2 linked regions of the Homo sapiens genome follow. The protein of the gene in region 1 interacts with the protein of each later gene in a biochemical or structural test. Each region holds a gene or a part of one and is shown in the gene's direction. Other genes may lie near its edges. The genes, in order: CACNA1S and TNKS.

The links.
Region 2: the proteins of CACNA1S (region 1) and TNKS interact in a test that uses a peptide from one of them, tested with the Homo sapiens proteins (one large-scale study listed by BioGRID and IntAct).

Annotation. Positions count from the first base shown.
Region 1 is NC_000001.11:201,063,860-201,067,679, reverse strand, and holds part of CACNA1S (voltage-dependent L-type calcium channel subunit alpha-1S), read left to right. Parts: intron 1-686; coding exon 687-793; intron 794-1,363; coding exon 1,364-1,451; intron 1,452-1,734; coding exon 1,735-1,842; intron 1,843-3,820. UniProt on the Homo sapiens protein: Pore-forming, alpha-1S subunit of the voltage-gated calcium channel that gives rise to L-type calcium currents in skeletal muscle.
Region 2 is NC_000008.11:9,709,254-9,713,073, forward strand, and holds part of TNKS (poly [ADP-ribose] polymerase tankyrase-1), read left to right. Parts: intron 1-701; coding exon 702-793; intron 794-888; coding exon 889-967; intron 968-3,820.

The DNA of each region.
Region 1 (3,820 bases):
GGACATTGCCAGAGAGGATAAAGTGGCCCCTTTGGGCTGGGATATATTGCACATACAGGAGGCCTGGGTGCCGAGTCTGGGAAGGCAAATTAAGACAAAATCATATAGGTCCCTGAATGCTGGGAAAGGTTTCAACCCTGTTCGATTTTAAGGGCAAAATGCATTTGTGCAAAGGCATGGGAGATTATTAGAGAATATATCAAAGAAGCTGAGAGGGGAGCAAGAAGGCAGGTGATGGGAAGGAGGTGGAGAGGGAGGAGAGAGGGCCTAGGACCCCTAGAGTCCTGGAGGGCTTGTTCAGCCTGACTTAGCAAACCACAAGGCAGAGGGGATTGCCCAAGAAGCTTTCCAGGAAGGAGAAGTTTTATGTCCCACAGGAGACAGTAGGGCCAGGGCTCCCCCACTCTGTGGCCCCATGGGAAAGGAGACCCAGGGTTCCCTATGGCATGTAAAGAAAGAGACTTCTGGCCCAGCTGCCCGTGAGAAGTCCTCACATTTCAACAACTGCGAGCAGAGATAGGAAATGCATTTAGGCCACTGCAAGGAGTTGAGTGAAATATAGAGATTTCTGGAAGGCTATTGCCTCAGTAAGTGCTCTCCTGAGCAGAGGCGAGAAGCCCTTGTCTGTGGGAGACAGGCCTGTTCTCCAAGCTCCTCCATCCAGGCTGCTGCCTCTTTCTCCCCAGATGACGACCTACGGAGCCTTCCTGCACAAGGGTTCCTTCTGCCGCAATTACTTCAACATGCTGGACCTGCTGGTGGTGGCCGTGTCCCTCATCTCCATGGGACTTGAGTGAGCAGCGGCAAGGGCCAGCCCTGGGCACAGACCACCCTCTGCTCTGTGCCAGGGCTTTGTAGTGGGAGTCCCACCCATGTTGGTGGGCCCCTGCCACAAGAGGAGGGTCTCTCGGGGCCTCCGATGGAGGCAGGGGGTCCTGTGGGTTGTCACCAGCTGGAATGTGGGTTGCCACCAGTGAAGTGGGCAGCGCTCTGTTCTAGAGACTGGCAGGAGATGCAGAGAGGAGGAAGTGGTCCCTCCCTCCCCGACCCTGTGGGGAGCACAGCCCCTGCCTTTGGGGTGCTCACCGTCTGACGGGAGGGACGGAGCTTCTAGCCACCCACAGGGGAAGGCTGTCTTCTGCTTCATGACACACCCATGAGAGCATGGTCCAGATAGCAGGGGTGGCTGTGCCCTGGAGTCGGGCACACTCTCACGGCTGGAGGAAAGGGAAGGGGAAGGTGGGAGTGTTTTCAGGCAGAAAGGCAGCTGGTGTGGAGGGCAGGATATGGCTGGAGGCTCCACCGCAGACTGGGCTGGCTGGAGCAGGCTGCCCTCAGCCCCCTCACCATTGCCGCCCCCCAGGTCCAGTGCCATCTCCGTGGTGAAGATCCTGAGGGTGCTGAGGGTGCTCCGACCACTCAGAGCCATCAACAGAGCCAAGGGGTTGAAGGTGAGAGAGGGCCCGGGCAGGAGCCCCAGAGAGGAATGGGAGGGGTTACAGGGGCCTCCTCGCTCCAGAAACCTCAGCCCAGCCATGGCTGGGACCCCTGTCCCATCTCCCTGGGCAGATAGGGGTAAGGATGAGGCTGGGGTAGCTATGCTTCCCCACCAGCCTTTCCCCACCTCCAACTCATCAGGAGGCAGCAAGTCTTGCACTCCTGGGGTTTCCTCAACTGGGCTAGCAGGGTTACTGTGGGTGCACCCCCAGTCCCCATTGGCCCCTCTGTCCCCAGCACGTGGTGCAGTGCATGTTCGTGGCCATCAGCACCATCGGGAACATCGTGCTGGTCACTACCCTCCTACAGTTCATGTTTGCCTGCATCGGCGTCCAGCTCTTCAAGGTGAGCCCCAGCCTGCGCGAGCAGCTCCCCCTCCCGCTCCCAGCCCTGGTGCCCACTCTCAAGCACAAGGAGCCCCACATTGTGAAAACAGATGTCTTCGAATGCACAGATTTCCATATGAGAATATTTTATTTTGAAAAATAGGTCTTCACCACACCAAACACATAAGTTTGCAGAAAGCCAGTAAGACATCGTTACATTTAAATAGCACCTTGAGTTCCACAAAAGCAGCCCAATGATAATCTCAGAAACAGTCAATGGGCTTCTAACACTACTGAAATGGTAGCAGAGGGTCATGTGTCTACTGAGTTGAAATTTAAATACAATTCAAGCCCCATCTCTTAAAGCTATTGTCATGCACTTAGAATTCTATCAAACAAAACAAGAAAACGGTTAGTTTGATGTCCATCTTTTAAATATGACTATGAAACTTCAATCTATAAATACAACTCTCCTAAATCAAACTTTTAAGAGACAGCCATCTTTCAATGATGGTTAATAGCTTTAAGAGATCTAATAAGCTAAAATGAAAACCTGACAGCAACTATCTTAAGCTCTTTTAAAAATTAAATACACAAGCAACACAACACATTATTGAGACTCAAAGTGAATTTGCTTCAACTGAATGCACAGAGTTTTAAGGCTAATATGTGGCAAGTCCAGATCCAGTTTCCTCAGTGACATCCATCCCGGGCCTCTTGGTTGACTGCTGACCACTGTTGCCATTGTATCTGCTCTCTCCCTACCCCACGTGGCTTTTCCTTGGGGAGGGAGGCCCCTCCTCCCAGGGCCCCACAGCCATTCTTCTCCCTTCCCACCCTTGCCCGCTTCCTCCCATCCTGCCAGGCCTGTGCCAAGCATACGCCCTATCCCAGCCCCACACTCCGCCTCCGTCAGTGCAGCTGGGCTGCGGCAGCCCATCTTCCTGGCTGGTATGTCTGGCATCATCCACATCTACCAGGAGCCTCTAAGGCTGGGAGTTCATCATCTCACATCCGGAGCCAACCTTATACTTTTCTCATTTTCCTAGGAGAACACAGCTATTCAGTTCCTCTCTAGGAATTAGCCCTACAAAGATGTCCCTCACACAAACCCTGATTTCCAGATGTCTCTGGCTCTCAGATCATTTGCAGGACAGAGAAATTGATTCCTAAGTATACACCAACACCCTTGATACTTCCTGCATGACCCAGCTGCTCCTCCTATCACCAAAGCACGATCTTTCAAAGTCATAATTACATAACCCCAGTCAGTCTTAGACATGAAATGGCATCATCTTACAATCATTCATTCATTCAACAAACATGTATGGAGTATGTTTTCCATACTTGAGCCAGGGCCTCTGCTAGAGCTGAGGGCCTTACAAGCCAAATCCTCGCTGAGGGCAGGGAACAGGCTCTGAGAGAAGCAGCAGCGTGGAGCCCCTAGAGAATCTTCGCGGGGAATAGGTCTTGTTGGTCCCTGTCCTGGAGGGACGGGAGGGATGGGAGTGTTTATTGTGTCTGGCCACTCTGCCAGCTGCGTGCAGCCTTCTCCCCCTGGCCCAACTGAGGGCTGTCCACCTCCTGCTCCCCAGCCCCCTCCTCTGCCAAGCTTGGGTCCCCAGAATCCCCTGAGGGCAGTGTCTGTGTCTGCCTCATCCCTTTGCCTGGCCCCCTGCCCAGGGCCTGGTGCAGAGGAGGCCCACCAGACACGCTCCCTGAAGGAATGAATGAGCCGCTGCCCTCCCTTTGGCTTCCACGTCCCTTCCAGACAAGCAAGAGCAATTGCTTGTCAACACCCAACTCTCGCCATGCTTTTGTCTCTCATTAAAAGACCCCCAGCTCCTGCCTTCCAGGAGGTTCTAGAAGCATAACAGTTCCAGTTGGCATTTGATGTCGCTTTTGACTCTGTGGAAACACCACGTGCATTCCACATTATAGCAGAGTCAAGCTTTGCTTTCCATAGTAAACTGGGCATTTGGTGTTAAGTGCCCAGA
Region 2 (3,820 bases), on another chromosome or scaffold:
ATACATGTCTCTCAAACTAGGGTTGAGATAGATTCAAGCTACACGGTGTTATGCTAGGAGATATTCATAGCCACAGAATAAACCTGACCCACTTTTTTGGAGTTTTCATTTTATTTAGTTGAAAGTAGTTTTTTATTTTTAAATTTTAATACGAATATTAAAATGAAGCAGAATAAAAAAGTTGTATAAATATTATGTTAAAACCTAAAATTTCTGAGAATATTTTTCTCTAAACTGCTTCAGTTCTATCATTTTCTTGCTTATCCTTGGGCATATAAACGTCTCCTGTAGTGCTGGGAGTACCTCTGTAGAAGAGCTTAGAAATACTGACTTGTGTGGCTGATGGCCTAATGAAAGATTGAGTAACTTAGTTATAGATTTCTGTAGCGTTGCAGAGGCATACGTATTATGATGCTCTCCATGGAATATATAGTGAATATTTATTGATTGGCTAAGCCAAAAGAAATAAGATCTCTCTTAATGTTTAAGAGCATAATTTCACCTTGGTTTAAACGCTTACGTTTTGTATTTCCACTATACGTAGAAAGAATATGGATCATCTCTGTGATATAAAACATATACATATGTTCTGATACTCTGAGATAACAATGTTTTAAATGGTCAGCAGATACTGTTCAATTCCAAGAGCTACTGTACATATGGAAGTGTATTTTATTAACTTGGTTTTGTTTACTTTATAGCACTGTGCTGTGGCCTCTCTGCATCCCAAACGTAAACAAGTGACAGAATTGTTACTTAGAAAAGGAGCAAATGTTAATGAAAAAAATAAAGAGTAAGTATAATTGCAGAAGGAGTTGTTCAGTTCCTAAAGAGGAAATGCAATAAAAGAGAGACAATTACCTTTTCTTTCTTTCCTCTTTTCTGTAGTTTCATGACTCCCCTGCATGTTGCAGCCGAAAGAGCCCATAATGATGTCATGGAAGTTCTGCATAAGCATGGCGCCAAGGTGAGGCACACACCTGAGCAGAGTGCCAGACTCAGCACTGAGCAGCCAGCTGCTCTTAACACTGCTTCTCTCTCTCCGATTTTTCTGAAGAAACTAATTTTATAAAGGACTATTAGTTCGTACTTAAATTCATGGATTCTCCTATAAAGCTGATTTAGATCTTGTTTCTAATAAAAATAATTACCCGTGTTTCTTGATCCTTTAATGTCACCCTTCTGTAAAGCAACAAAATATAGCTATAGTCATTTGAAATAGATTTCATCTTTACATTACTTTCAGTTAATACTATACGGATATATTTTGATAGTGTCCACTTGAATAACAGTTTATCAGAAAATAAATTATGTTAAATGATAGCATCAGAATAGCTCTACTTATTCTAAAAAACATTTGTGGCCAGGCACAGTGGCTCACGCCTGTAATCCCAGCACTTTGGGAGGCCGAGGCAGGTGGATCACGAGGTCAGGAGATGGAGACCATCCTGGCTAAGACGGTGAAACCCCGTCTCTACTAAAAATACAAAAAATTAGCCGGGCGTGGTGGCGGGTGCCTGTAGTCCCAGCTACCCAGGAGGCTGAGGCAGGAGAATGGCATGAACCTGGGAGGCGAAGCTTGCAGTGAGCTGAGATTGCGCCACTACACTCCAGCCTGGGAGACAGAGTGAGAATCTGTCTCAAAAAAAAAAATTGTATGCCTTCAGATTTGTAATAATTTTCTCAACCTCTACACTAAAGAAATATGACATATTTAATAATTTTTACTGGCATTTTCTGAATGGTGTAGTCTGAAACTTTGTCAAGCACTTAAGAGAGGAAAGAAGCAAACTGGTTGTTTTTTAGAGGTGACTTGAAATTATAGATTTTTTCATTCTCAAGAATGTATATTTCAAAGCAGTTGTCTCCAAAGTAGGGTATAGACTCCCTATGGAGCATACAAGATGCCCTGTTGGAAAAATCCTAGCATTTCAATTTATAATACTTTTATTTAAGAATAAGGAAATTCAGATTTACCAATATTGAATACAAAGATGATGCCAGCACTCTCACTAGGTCCACGTGTCAGCCATTGTGACTCGTGATGTCAAGGTTTCCTGAGGTAAGAGTGGGACTTGTTAGTATCGAGGGATTGACAGTGGCAAACTCACTTGTTTGTTCCCTTTCAGCATATTTTGGCATAGTGTACTTTACTTGTGTCCAAATGAGTTGAATTTATGGATATTATCCTAAATGGTAGAACTTTTATAAATATCATACTTGATCAGAGTAGTGACCCTGACAAGGGACACAGGGAGTGACCCTGACATGCTTTTATAGTGTAAAAAGGTGGTCTGGTTATTTTGTGAAGTAGTATTTTAAGGTGTTGTCATAGTTGTGTTCTTTTTAATGAAAATAAAAGGGTTCAAAATTTGTTAATAGTTCTCTGAGGACAAATGACCATGACTTGCATGTAGATACCCTTTAAAAAGGAAACATAATCAGATCCTTAAAGGTAAAAGTTACACACTTTAGGTAAATGATAAAATAACTGCTTTTTTAAAAGAAACTTTAAAAAATGAAGAGAACGTTTTGAACATAGATTTTTAGAAAATGTTCACTTTTCTGTGATTTTGCTGAAAAATGATATAAATGAATCACCCAGCCGTCATATCTACATAATTTAAACACATAAAAACAGAATTTTCTCACCTGTTCAAAAGCCTTCCTTAATTTGGTTTTAGGGTAGATTTTGAATCTATTCAAAACATTGTAATGCAGCACTTCCTAATAACTTCGCAAGAACATCAGTAAAGATGGAATTTTACTACAGAATTTCAATGAAAGCCTTAGCATAATTAGTAAATTACATTAAAATTAGGCATTCTGATTGAGTAGGCATAGTTAACAATGCATTTATTTCATTGGCTCCATGAATCTGTATGAAATCTTTGCAACTAATATAGCCATTCAAACTAATTATCAAAAATGAACTTAGAGCCACGTGTAGTGGCCCGTAATCACTCCTGTAATCCCAGAGCTTTAGGAGGCAAAGGCAGAAGGATTGCTTGAGGCCAGGAGTTCGACACCAGCCTGGGCAACACAGCAAGACACTATCTCTACAAAAAATTTAAAAATTAGCCAGTCGTGGTGGTGTGCACCTATAGTCCTAGCGACTCGGGAGGCTGAGGCAGGAAGATCACTTGATCCCAGGAGTTTGAGGCTGCAGTGAGGTATGATCATACCACTGTACTGCAGCCTGGGCAACAGAGCAAGACTCTGTCTCTAAAGAAAAATGAAATGAACCTAAAATTAAACCCTCAAATTCCTAATATCACAATTTTTATAAGTTTTTTTAAATGTTTAAACTACAGTCAATGGATATTTTCTAGCATAAGTAATTAAAATATGTTTTGGACAGGTACCATAGCCTATGCCTTAATCCCAGCACTTTGGGAGACTGAGGTGGGAGGATCGCTTGAGCCCAGGATTTTGAGATCAGCTGGGCAACACAGGCCAACCCCGTCTCTACAAATAATAAAAAAAAATAGCCAGATGTGGTGGTGCATTCCTGTAGTCCCAGCTACTCGGGAGGCTGAGGTGGGAAAATCACTTGAGCCCAAGAGGTCGAGGCTGTAGTGAGCTGTAATCATGCCACTACACTGTAGCCTGGGTGACAGAGCAGTACTCTATCTCAGAAAATAATAATCATGAAATCTTTTTAAATTTTTAATTATTTCATCTCTTTCTCATCCTTCATAAATTCTCTTTGTGTAAGTTTTATAATAGTATAGCACTTCTTGGTTATAATTTACAAAGAAATTCATATATATATATTAAGTGTTCTCAAAACTTTTCTACCTGGAGGGTGTGTGATTTA